Homo sapiens: one gene and its partner. The protein of the gene in region 1 interacts with the protein of each later gene in a pairwise test. Each region holds a gene or a part of one and is shown on either strand. Other genes may lie near its edges.

What was found.
Region 2: the proteins of CCR1 (region 1) and TMX1 interact in binary tests that used the Homo sapiens proteins (3 or more experiments, as listed by UniProt).

Annotation. Positions count from the first base shown.
Region 1 is NC_000003.12:46,200,913-46,205,313, reverse strand, and holds the end of CCR1 (C-C chemokine receptor type 1), read left to right. Parts: intron 1-989; 5' UTR 990-1,000; coding exon 1,001-2,068; 3' UTR 2,069-3,603; downstream 3,604-4,401. UniProt on the Homo sapiens protein: Chemokine receptor that plays a crucial role in regulating immune cell migration, inflammation, and immune responses.
Region 2 is NC_000014.9:51,243,011-51,250,308, reverse strand, and holds part of TMX1 (thioredoxin-related transmembrane protein 1 precursor), read right to left. Parts: intron 6,454-7,298; coding exon 6,338-6,453; intron 6,220-6,337; exon of another isoform or gene 6,085-6,219; intron 4,997-6,084; coding exon 4,951-4,996; intron 3,218-4,950; coding exon 3,089-3,217; intron 984-3,088; coding exon 938-983; intron 842-937; coding exon 740-841; intron 617-739; coding exon 544-616; intron 1-543. UniProt on the Homo sapiens protein: Thiredoxin domain-containing protein that participates in various redox reactions through the reversible oxidation of its active center dithiol to a disulfide and catalyze dithiol-disulfide exchange reactions.

The DNA of each region.
Region 1 (4,401 bases):
ACTTTCCTCTCCTTCAGGAGGTCTGCAAAGTGACCTTAGATCTACCTGTGCCACCTAAGGACTGTGCAATGTGGGTCAGGCTCAGCCCACTCTGGTGCCCTCAGTGTCCTCATCTCCAAAATAATGGGGTTGACCTACTAGGATTTCACTATGGCAACACCACTGGTGTTTGGGGTAGAATGATCTCTGCACTGTAGGACATCCTTGGCCCTGCCTACCAAATGACGGTAGCATCCCCCAGTTTTGGTGACAACAACAACAAATGCCCACACATTTCCAAGTGCCCCAAGGGTACTAGGTCACTCTCGGCTGAGAATCTTCTTAGACCAAAAGCCATGAATATCTGTTTGTATCTTTCTCTGAGCCAGGACCATTTTCCTTCTCAGAGTCCTCCTGTGGGCTCCACAGTGCAAAGCTACTGCTCGGGGACAGCAGCAGGAAAGCGTAGTGGTGTCAGGGCCGGGCATGAGAATGATGCACAGCTGGGTTGGAGCTCCAGGTCTGTTCTCACAAGAGGTGTGTCCTTGAACATGTTTCCTAACCACTCTGAACCTCTGTTTCATCACCTCTTAAATAAGAACAACAATGGGACCCCTCCAGGGCTCTTTAACCCTAAGTCCAGTGCCTAGGCCATGGGGGTGCTTAGGAAGTGTTGGTTATGAATAGTATGGTAAGGTCTCCCTCTGGCTTTCCACCCATTGAACTTATCCCTTACAAAACTCTTTGCTGAAATGATTGAATTAATGATTTGTGCACTCATTTACTTATTGCTTCCACTCCCTGTTAGACTAAGATTCCTAGAAGGCAGAGAGGATCTGGGTCTCTCTAACACTCCATTTTGTCCCCAGGGCATGGTACACAGAAGGCACTCAATAAACATTTATGGAGTGGCTGAAAAAATGTTACCTCTCCCTTGTCTTTACTGTCCAGTGCCCACTGCCTTTAGTAGCAGAGTAAAGACAAATCTTTTTTTTTTTTTTAACCTGTAGGAGAAGCCGGGATGGAAACTCCAAACACCACAGAGGACTATGACACGACCACAGAGTTTGACTATGGGGATGCAACTCCGTGCCAGAAGGTGAACGAGAGGGCCTTTGGGGCCCAACTGCTGCCCCCTCTGTACTCCTTGGTATTTGTCATTGGCCTGGTTGGAAACATCCTGGTGGTCCTGGTCCTTGTGCAATACAAGAGGCTAAAAAACATGACCAGCATCTACCTCCTGAACCTGGCCATTTCTGACCTGCTCTTCCTGTTCACGCTTCCCTTCTGGATCGACTACAAGTTGAAGGATGACTGGGTTTTTGGTGATGCCATGTGTAAGATCCTCTCTGGGTTTTATTACACAGGCTTGTACAGCGAGATCTTTTTCATCATCCTGCTGACGATTGACAGGTACCTGGCCATCGTCCACGCCGTGTTTGCCTTGCGGGCACGGACCGTCACTTTTGGTGTCATCACCAGCATCATCATTTGGGCCCTGGCCATCTTGGCTTCCATGCCAGGCTTATACTTTTCCAAGACCCAATGGGAATTCACTCACCACACCTGCAGCCTTCACTTTCCTCACGAAAGCCTACGAGAGTGGAAGCTGTTTCAGGCTCTGAAACTGAACCTCTTTGGGCTGGTATTGCCTTTGTTGGTCATGATCATCTGCTACACAGGGATTATAAAGATTCTGCTAAGACGACCAAATGAGAAGAAATCCAAAGCTGTCCGTTTGATTTTTGTCATCATGATCATCTTTTTTCTCTTTTGGACCCCCTACAATTTGACTATACTTATTTCTGTTTTCCAAGACTTCCTGTTCACCCATGAGTGTGAGCAGAGCAGACATTTGGACCTGGCTGTGCAAGTGACGGAGGTGATCGCCTACACGCACTGCTGTGTCAACCCAGTGATCTACGCCTTCGTTGGTGAGAGGTTCCGGAAGTACCTGCGGCAGTTGTTCCACAGGCGTGTGGCTGTGCACCTGGTTAAATGGCTCCCCTTCCTCTCCGTGGACAGGCTGGAGAGGGTCAGCTCCACATCTCCCTCCACAGGGGAGCATGAACTCTCTGCTGGGTTCTGACTCAGACCATAGGAGGCCAACCCAAAATAAGCAGGCGTGACCTGCCAGGCACACTGAGCCAGCAGCCTGGCTCTCCCAGCCAGGTTCTGACTCTTGGCACAGCATGGAGTCACAGCCACTTGGGATAGAGAGGGAATGTAATGGTGGCCTGGGGCTTCTGAGGCTTCTGGGGCTTCAGTCTTTTCCATGAACTTCTCCCCTGGTAGAAAGAAGATGAATGAGCAAAACCAAATATTCCAGAGACTGGGACTAAGTGTACCAGAGAAGGGCTTGGACTCAAGCAAGATTTCAGATTTGTGACCATTAGCATTTGTCAACAAAGTCACCCACTTCCCACTATTGCTTGCACAAACCAATTAAACCCAGTAGTGGTGACTGTGGGCTCCATTCAAAGTGAGCTCCTAAGCCATGGGAGACACTGATGTATGAGGAATTTCTGTTCTTCCATCACCTCCCCCCCCCCGCCACCCTCCCACTGCCAAAGAACTTGGAAATAGTGATTTCCACAGTGACTCCACTCTGAGTCCCAGAGCCAATCAGTAGCCAGCATCTGCCTCCCCTTCACTCCCACCGCAGGATTTGGGCTCTTGGAATCCTGGGGAACATAGAACTCATGACGGAAGAGTTGAGACCTAACGAGAAATAGAAATGGGGAACTACTGCTGGCAGTGGAACTAAGAAAGCCCTTAGGAAGAATTTTTATATCCACTAAAATCAAACAATTCAGGGAGTGGGCTAAGCACGGGCCATATGAATAACATGGTGTGCTTCTTAAAATAGCCATAAAGGGGAGGGACTCATCATTTCCATTTACCCTTCTTTTCTGACTATTTTTCAGAATCTCTCTTCTTTTCAAGTTGGGTGATATGTTGGTAGATTCTAATGGCTTTATTGCAGCGATTAATAACAGGCAAAAGGAAGCAGGGTTGGTTTCCCTTCTTTTTGTTCTTCATCTAAGCCTTCTGGTTTTATGGGTCAGAGTTCCGACTGCCATCTTGGACTTGTCAGCAAAAAAAAAAAATAATAATAATAATAAGGCCTGCTGTGTAAGCTGACAGTATTTGTAGCTGATAGGGGGTTGGGAGGAAAGTGTCTACTAGGAGGGTGGGGTGAGATTCTGTGTTGATGTAGGAGGCCGAGAAGGCCCTTAACTCAAAGTAGCTTATTTATCCAAAATGTTCTGGATGCATCATCTCCAACCAAGGACCCCTTATTTATCATGCCTTTGTTCTCTTTTCCCTCAGATGTATATTTCTTTAAAAATAATTTTCCTAATAACAAAACTTATTTCTAAAACAGCTTAAAAATTCAAAGAAAAACCCCAAACACTGACATTACCTACACTTCCACTACCCAAAGACAAAATGTGCCCACTGTGTGCTTTTGAGTGTATTTTCTTTTAGTTTGTTTTTTGTTGGGTGCATATTTATGATAATAACAATGATGGACTTCAATTGTACTCACTGTTCTATTGTTGGTTTTAATTAGCAGCAAGTTGTGATCACTTTCCCAGGTGAATAAATCATTTCAAAGCATTGTTTTTGGTGCCTGCACTGAAGTCGTTGGCAGGGATGCACCCTAATTTACTCCACCTGTTTACCCACTATTGCTTGCACAAATCAGTTCAACCCAGCAGTGATGACTGTGGGCTCCATTCAAAGCAAGCTCTTGAGCCATGAGAGACACTGGTGCATGAGGAATGTCTGTTCTTGCAGGGTGCTCAGCTCAGTGAGCCAGACAGACACAGGGATGCCAACAGGGCCCAGGCAGCATGGCAGGGGGTTGGGGGGACTGCAGAGCTCAGGGTGCCAAGGCAGTAAAAGGGAAGAAGGAATCATCAGTCAGAAGACACCCTAAGCTGACGGGTGTCCCACCTTACAATACAGTGACACCATTGGGCTGACTTTTCTCCTTTTGTGGACACTAGAGCTGCACTCTTACCAAACCACACACCCCCTTCAGTGGGAATTGTGTTCACATGTGGTCTTTGTACAAAGAAGCTGGTGTCATGATGGTCTTGAAAACTTTTGTCTGGGATAGAGGAGGTCATGCCACCTGGGCTTACACCCCCACACAGAAAATATAGACAAATATAGGTCTTAGGAGTCCAAGTGGATGTCAGCTTTCCAGTTGTAAACCCACCAGCTCTCAGTGTGTGGAAAGGAGGCTTAACTGAATTAAGACATATTTGTCTATTGCTTTAGTAAAATAAAACTGCATCAGAAAACAGTATTTGGTCCAACAGTGAAATCATAATGTGAAATATTTCACAAGATCCTCCAATTCCGTTTTGAAGTAATGCTTGTTTTTTCCCTTATTACAAAGGGAATTTC
Region 2 (7,298 bases), on another chromosome or scaffold:
AAGTTCTTTAAGAACTGCAAATATAAATGCTTCCATTAACAGTACAATTACAAGATTGGTAAATGCTTGTAATTATTTAAATTGTTCTGTAGTACAGTTCAGTGTCAGTGGCATCCTAAATCAACTATAGGGATTGCTTTTCCCAATATCCTACCAGAAAAAACTTACAGTTGGCTGGCATTCAAAGAATAATCTTCAAATGTGGCGGCCGGTATACTAATGAAAGACTTCAAGAGTAGAATATACTCCACTTATAAAACGACACCAAATAAATATTATTAAATAGCTACATGCTATATGCAATGTTAAAATTCCCCATAATATAAGAGTCAAGAAAATAACAATGTTCCAAAATCCACTGGGCTACATTCTTATATGAAATATACATCTCCTCTACCTTCCTTTATGCCATAGCTGATAAAGACCAACAATCCACAGTTAGAATTCTAAGCTGGAAGAGCAACCTGTGAAATGTGTGATTGTGATTACAGAAATGAATAGGACTATCGTGAATAAAAAATAAACATTTTAAAATATACTTACTTGAAGGGTATGGGTACGGCTGTGGTCTGCGCCTTTTTGAAGGACAAAGGCAATCTGCCACAAATATCATACACTGTAAAAATAAACATTGTAAGAAATCTGAATGTAGAATATATGCCACAGCTAATGTAACTATTTTAAATAATCACATTTTTAAATATCTTTCTTCCTAGCACTCCAAAAATGAAATACTTACGAGTCCTAATAACAGTCCGGAAAACAGAGTTGCTAAAGCAAAAACAGTATATGATCCCCACACTGGCAATCCAAGGTCTTCAATAAAGTAGTTATGGCAAGTCTAAAATCAAAAGAAAAAAAAAAACTAAAAATCTGTTCATTTTTGTTAAAGTGATAGTGGTAAAAATGTTTAAGATAAAAATATTTTAGTCCATACCCTGATCCACATAGATAGCTGAAAGAGTGCTGACATACTACTCATCCTAAAAATAAAAGAGATGATTAAAAAACTGAGTAACATACACAGATTTGTCTATACATACTATTTTCTACTCTATAATTTCCCCAATATGACAGATTTTATTGCTGTTAATCAAGACTAGTGACACATCACTGATTTCATGCCTGTAATAAGCCTTCTTCATGAAAACTGTTTCTAAATTGACACTACCATGTGACAGCCTCATAAATAAAAATACTTGACAGTATTTTTTTCCTTTTCTCCCACTGTTTTGATGTTAATATTTTGTATTTCATCTGATGATTTCTCCAATACACTGAGTAAAGGGTTACAAGTTCCATGAAACCAGTTGGAAAAGGCAACTCTTACTCACCCTTAAAAGCCTTCAAAGCAAGACCAAAGGGAGGCTAAAGTAAGGACTGGAAACAATTGTCAAGCCAATTCTTTCCATTTAAGAACTATCCCTCTTTTTTATTGAAATTAATTAAAATTTACAAGAGCATTAGTTTGACATCTTTTAATGATATACAAAATTATTACATAGGAAATAAATGCTAAGTCATCATATAAGCAAAAATTAGTATTTTACATAATTAAATGGCCAGTTTTAAAAAGGCATGTTTCAGAAATAAGAAAGGTCTGTGAGTTCCCAATTGTAGCTGCTTGAAAATAGACTTACAAGCAACTACTTTCTTCTACTGGAAGGACAAGATTCATTTATGAGATGAGATTTCAGAGAACAAAAATCAGTTATACTTTTAGTTCGACACAGAAAGGTATTTTAATCATGTTGCTTCTGTTGTTTAAAAGCCAAGTGAGAAGAGAAACAAGGAACTGAAACATAAAGCACTGTATAGCCTCACTGTAGTCTGCAGTAATTTATTTCAGAAACAGTAGGATCCAAAATTGAGTTGGGCATGGTAGTTCAATGGGTGAGTGTTAACAGGGCTAATCTTTCTCCCATCCCCAGAATCTAGAGCATTTTTCTCTTATGTGATTACTGTCCCAACTCCCTATCCTCCAAAGGTAAGTGTGGTGAGAGGACAGGAAGAGACAGATGGCCACACAGGATCAGTCCATGGTGACCTCAGCAAAACTCACTGTTCCCAGAGGTCTCTCACATGACCAGTGAGGCCTTGTACTCCAACAGCAAAGCAGAAAGCATGCTTGCTACTTCCAATCCTTATCACTCCATAGCCAGTTGCTACGAGGAAATTCATCTACCCTCTAGATATCTATAAAGCTCAGTGCTTAGGCACACTATTACGGTCACCGTTTATACACACTATTCATATAAGAAGTTATCAGACAGGTGGAATAACCAACCAAACATAATTCAGTCGCTTGACATCAAGAGTTGAAGTTTATGTAATTAATTTAGTTGGTATCGGCAATTATTGACGGTCTCTATGGAGACAGAACATTAAAAGACAAATTGAAGTCTGGAGGTAGCATGAGTACAAGTTTGAGCCTACTCATTCAAATTATTACACTCGAGTGATAGCTTTACCCATTACACTGTGAAGACTCTTAGGGGCATTTAGTTTTTGATGATACATATGACCAAATCTAGCAAGCTAAAATATTCCTGAAAAGGTGTACAACTTACTTCTATAAAATGCCTTCTCTAACTCAAGAAGCATGAAAATATGTTTGACTTAGAAGGTCAAACTAAAAAGATCAAACATGTAGGCCGTGCATAGTGGCTCACACCTGTAATCCCAGCACTCTGGGAGGCCGAGGTGGGCAAATCACGAGGTCAGGAGATCAAGACCATCCTGGCTAACACAGTGAAACCCCGTCTCTACTAAAAATACAAAAAAATTAGCCACGTGTGGCGGTGGGCACCTGTAGTCCCAGCTACTCGGGAGGCTGAGGCAGGAGAATGGCGTGAACCCAGGAGGCAGAGCTTGCAGTGAGCCGAGATTGCGCCACTGCACTCCAGCCTGGGCGACAGAGCAAGACTCCATCTCAAAAAAAAAAAAAAAAAAAAAATCAAACATGTAATAAATGTGGATATACCTTAACAGCTCAAGAAACAAACTGAGTATGAATGCTTTACATAAAATATAATTATCTGTTCCAATTAATTATGAAATGGGTAAGAGAAAAAGCCCTCATACTTACAGAACAGAACCTGGACCAAACCATGATGAAACGGGCTCAATACTCTTCCACTCTTTATCACTTATAAAGTTTATGAAGTCCTTCTTAGTCCTTGGACCCTGATAGCGCCTAAATTCACCATCTTTACAACTAAAGAGAATCAGAATTAAATATTATCCAGCACTGAGAAATAATTTAATATTTATTTTGCTATTTTTTCACTTCACTTTACAGTCAATTCTAACATTCAAAAGCATTAGCAATGTACAAGTATTAATAGCAAATTATACTATTTACCTACTCATGACATTTTAGCCCCCAATTTAACAATGAGGTTACATTTTTTTAAATCATAAGCCTTAAAATGTAATTACTGTTATTCTTCCAAGTAATGAAACTATGAAATACAGTAAGTAGATAAATCTCAGGAAAGTACTTTTAAGCCTTATGTGTAATACACATATTAAAAGAATTATATAAAAATTATTAGAATAGTGCTTGGCACATAGTAATTATTAGCTGTTAAGCTATAACTTAAAATTTTAAGGCATTTTTCTAGTACTTTTGGCTATAATAGCATCACCTCAGACACCCTGCTTTAAATCACTGGAGGCATCTGGTATGGTGCTTCCCTTCCTCTCATTTCAGTGACTATTTAGTGAGCTTTGCAGCCTTCCTTAGATCCACCTCCTCCTTCCCATTCCCAATGTAGAAAGTTCTGTCAGAGTCACAAATGTTCTCTTGGCTCCAACATCTTTAAGTGCAAAAACTCATCAGCTCCCTACTAGGGACCTGTTAAGTAGGGTTAAGGGACCCTTTATCCACTCAGAGGTAAAAACCACGAGGAAGCCCCCCACCCCAAAACACAAAGTTTTTGTGAAGTGTCATTTGAGCTATTATTTGAAGCATAGGTAAGATTTCGACAGGCAGGAAACAGGAGAAAGGATATGGTAAACAATTTTGACTAAAAGAAAAAGGGCAGGAAATTCCAAATAAGGTCACAGGGCACTAAGAAGTGAAAAGCAAAGGGAGAGACTGAAGGGGCACGTGGGGAAAAGGACTGAATGAGAAGGGCAGGACAGAAGCACTTATGGAGACAGCGAACAGAAATTTATATAGATGTAAAGGGAGTAGGGGTGAATTTTAAAACCATAAAAAAAAGAAAAAAGGGCAAAGAAAAGCAAGCTATAAATACAAAGAATTGTCAACTTATTTTCAGTACCTCCTGGTATTTAACCTACCAGCTACATGATGTTGGGGTACACAGACTTGAGATTTCATACCCTCAATTTAGAAGATAAAGTCAAACTAATAGACCTGACACTGAAGACTACATAATCTTGCTCATTCTGTTTTATTACCCAACTGTCACCTATTACTCTACCCAAGGCTGTACAACAGCACTTTCTTAGCTACTTTTTGGACATAACATGTTCCTGTTAATGACTGTTTATGAGATTGTCCTCACAATAAAATGCTTACGCTCCACTCTTAAAATTCTACTTCCAAGGTTTCATTTAAACCCCATATTCTCTGGGAACCAATCCAGGTAACTGTGATTTCTCCTTTATCCAATTACCTACAGGACTCACCACTACTTTGGATGCATAATGACTTAACACGCTGAACAGGATCACACCATTTCACAAGAACATCACTTTCCAAAACAACTGTAAATCTTTGAGAACAGAGACTGTTTCACACATCACTCAACTACCTAAAGGCACCTAGGATAACACTAAGCAAAACAAGCCCTCTAAAATACCTGCTGAATATAATGAGATTACCTCAGCTCTTCCAGCATGATCCAAGCCAGAGGCCTACTACTTCTGATTACACTATAATGCATCCTTCTCCATAATTTAGAATCTTCAAATACTTACTGATAAATAGTAGGAAGAGCAGTTATGATAAACCGTCCACTCAGTCCTACAAATAAAGAACACACAGCAGGTTTTACATAGGCCAATCACTGACTACTTAAAACGTGACTTTGAATTATTTAAATACATACTAATAGGAAAGAATATGAAATTATACCTAATAGTTGAGCTTCGTAATACATAATTTAAAAATGAATTATGTACTTAAAGCAACTTTAAAAAACACAATACTGCACATTATCTCAGTTAAAAAGTATGTAGAACTAGAGTACTGAATACATTTTTAAATAAAAACACTTCAACATTTATATCACTGTCAAAATTAAGACTACTAGTAATAAGAGCACCTTGTGCTCATGGGAGAGCACAAGGTAATAGGGTCTTAGATCTAAAATCCAATGGAATTGTACTTGACATTCAACAAACAAAGGCAGTTTATGGTGCTGCTAAAAATGGAAAATACTATGAATCTTTCATGAGACAGGCAAAAATAATAGCAGCTAACATTTATTGTTAGCCATGTGTCAAGCACTGATATTACAGAGAATTGACCTGTGCCTCAGTTTTCTTATCTGTGAAATGGGGACATTACATATTTCACGGGGTTGTATAAGGATTAAATAATAAACACAAGATATTTGGAAGAGTGCTATAATAGGCAAGCGCTCGATAAATATTACCTATTATTACCATTTGGGATGGGACAGCCAAGAATCCAAGGGTAGTGTGACTACCGAGAACGGTAAGATGAGATTGGTCTGTGGAAGGAACCTCCTTAAGGGCAGGACCTGCCACTTGTCCAGGGACCAAGTCAGGAGTGCACTTGACCTCACAACCACGAGGGCTTTATATTTAGAAGCCCACATCCTCAAATCATAGGTACTAAATTTAAAACTCAATTTCAGAGATTCAGGTCTTCTTTTGTCAGGGAACGTGACCTTGACTCCAGAAAAACACTCAACCACATGCTCCTTATTCTGAAGCCTGGTATGGATGCAAATGTGGCTTGGCCAATGTTCACCTGAACCACAGTGTCCTAGGACTTCTCAAAGGCATCTTACATACTAGTCTGGGGCCTGGGATGCAAAGAACAACAAATCAGAGGCAGTTATGTGGGCAAGAATAAAAAGAGGGTAATGTCTTCAAGAACCCTTAAAGCAACACATTCAAGAAATGAGGTGTATACACAACCAGGGAATCTCCATTTTGCAACCATTGCACACTGAGCCCCCAGCAGGGAGGTGGACAAGTCAGGTTAACTAGCTGCAGACTGTTAGGTTTTCAAAACCTAAAGAAAGGTAGAATTAAGACTATGCAATGTAGAAAAAAGGATAAATATATCAACCCAAACAGCAAAGAAACAAAACTAACCAAAGACTTACAGTACCTGGCTGCTCTGTGACATCTACTTTCGCAATATTAACCTCAAGATCTTCTCCCCATTCAGCAAAACTTTCCCATTCCGGTTGAAGATTTTGACAAGCAGGGCACCACGGGGCATAACTAAGAAATACAGATTTTTTTTTAAAAAAAGTTAAGCACTTTAGTATGACCATTTATCTTGGGATAAAAAATTTAAATGTATAATTTATGAAGAATATTTCATATGAAAACACTGAAGATGATAAGGTGGTTAATTTTATGCAGATGAAAAACTTTTAAGGGTAGATCTAACAATCCGGAAATCAAGAATGATGAACTGATGATGCTAATCAAATAAAATTCTGAGAATAAGACACAGGATTTTTTCACATGCAAAACAGCTCTTTAGAAAACTTTTGCATTTCTCTATTAACGGTGTGGCCACCAGAAAGCTCAAGACCAAAGTTAGAGCTTACCAATTTTAATAATTTATAATGCAGAGTCACAAATGCAAGGTGTTGGAAAAACAGAAGTGTCCTGGGCTGTGGTGAATAAGAAAGCACATATTCCATCTTAAAGTGGCAACCATTATTAAGTAGGATTGCCACTAAGGATGCTGGCACACTAAGGCTGGCTATTCATATTTAAAAGAAGATGGAGAGCTGCATTTTTATATGAGAATGTTACCTCAAAAAATAACCCACACACAAATACTAAGCAGGCCAAACAAAACTCTTGGCCAGTTAGGTCATCCTGTTTCCAAGACCTTGGATTTACAAATGCAAGCATATTAGCATTTAAATTACTCCTCTGGTATTATCTCCTGAGGATCTTATTTTTCCACTTTATTGTATTTTATCTTATAATACACCACAGGGTTGTTCTTTTTTTTTTTTTTTTTTTAACAGAACCAGGAAGAATAAAGCCTAAAGCAGTTAAACACAAAACTATACTTTCTGTACTTCACATTTTCTTCACTTGTTTTA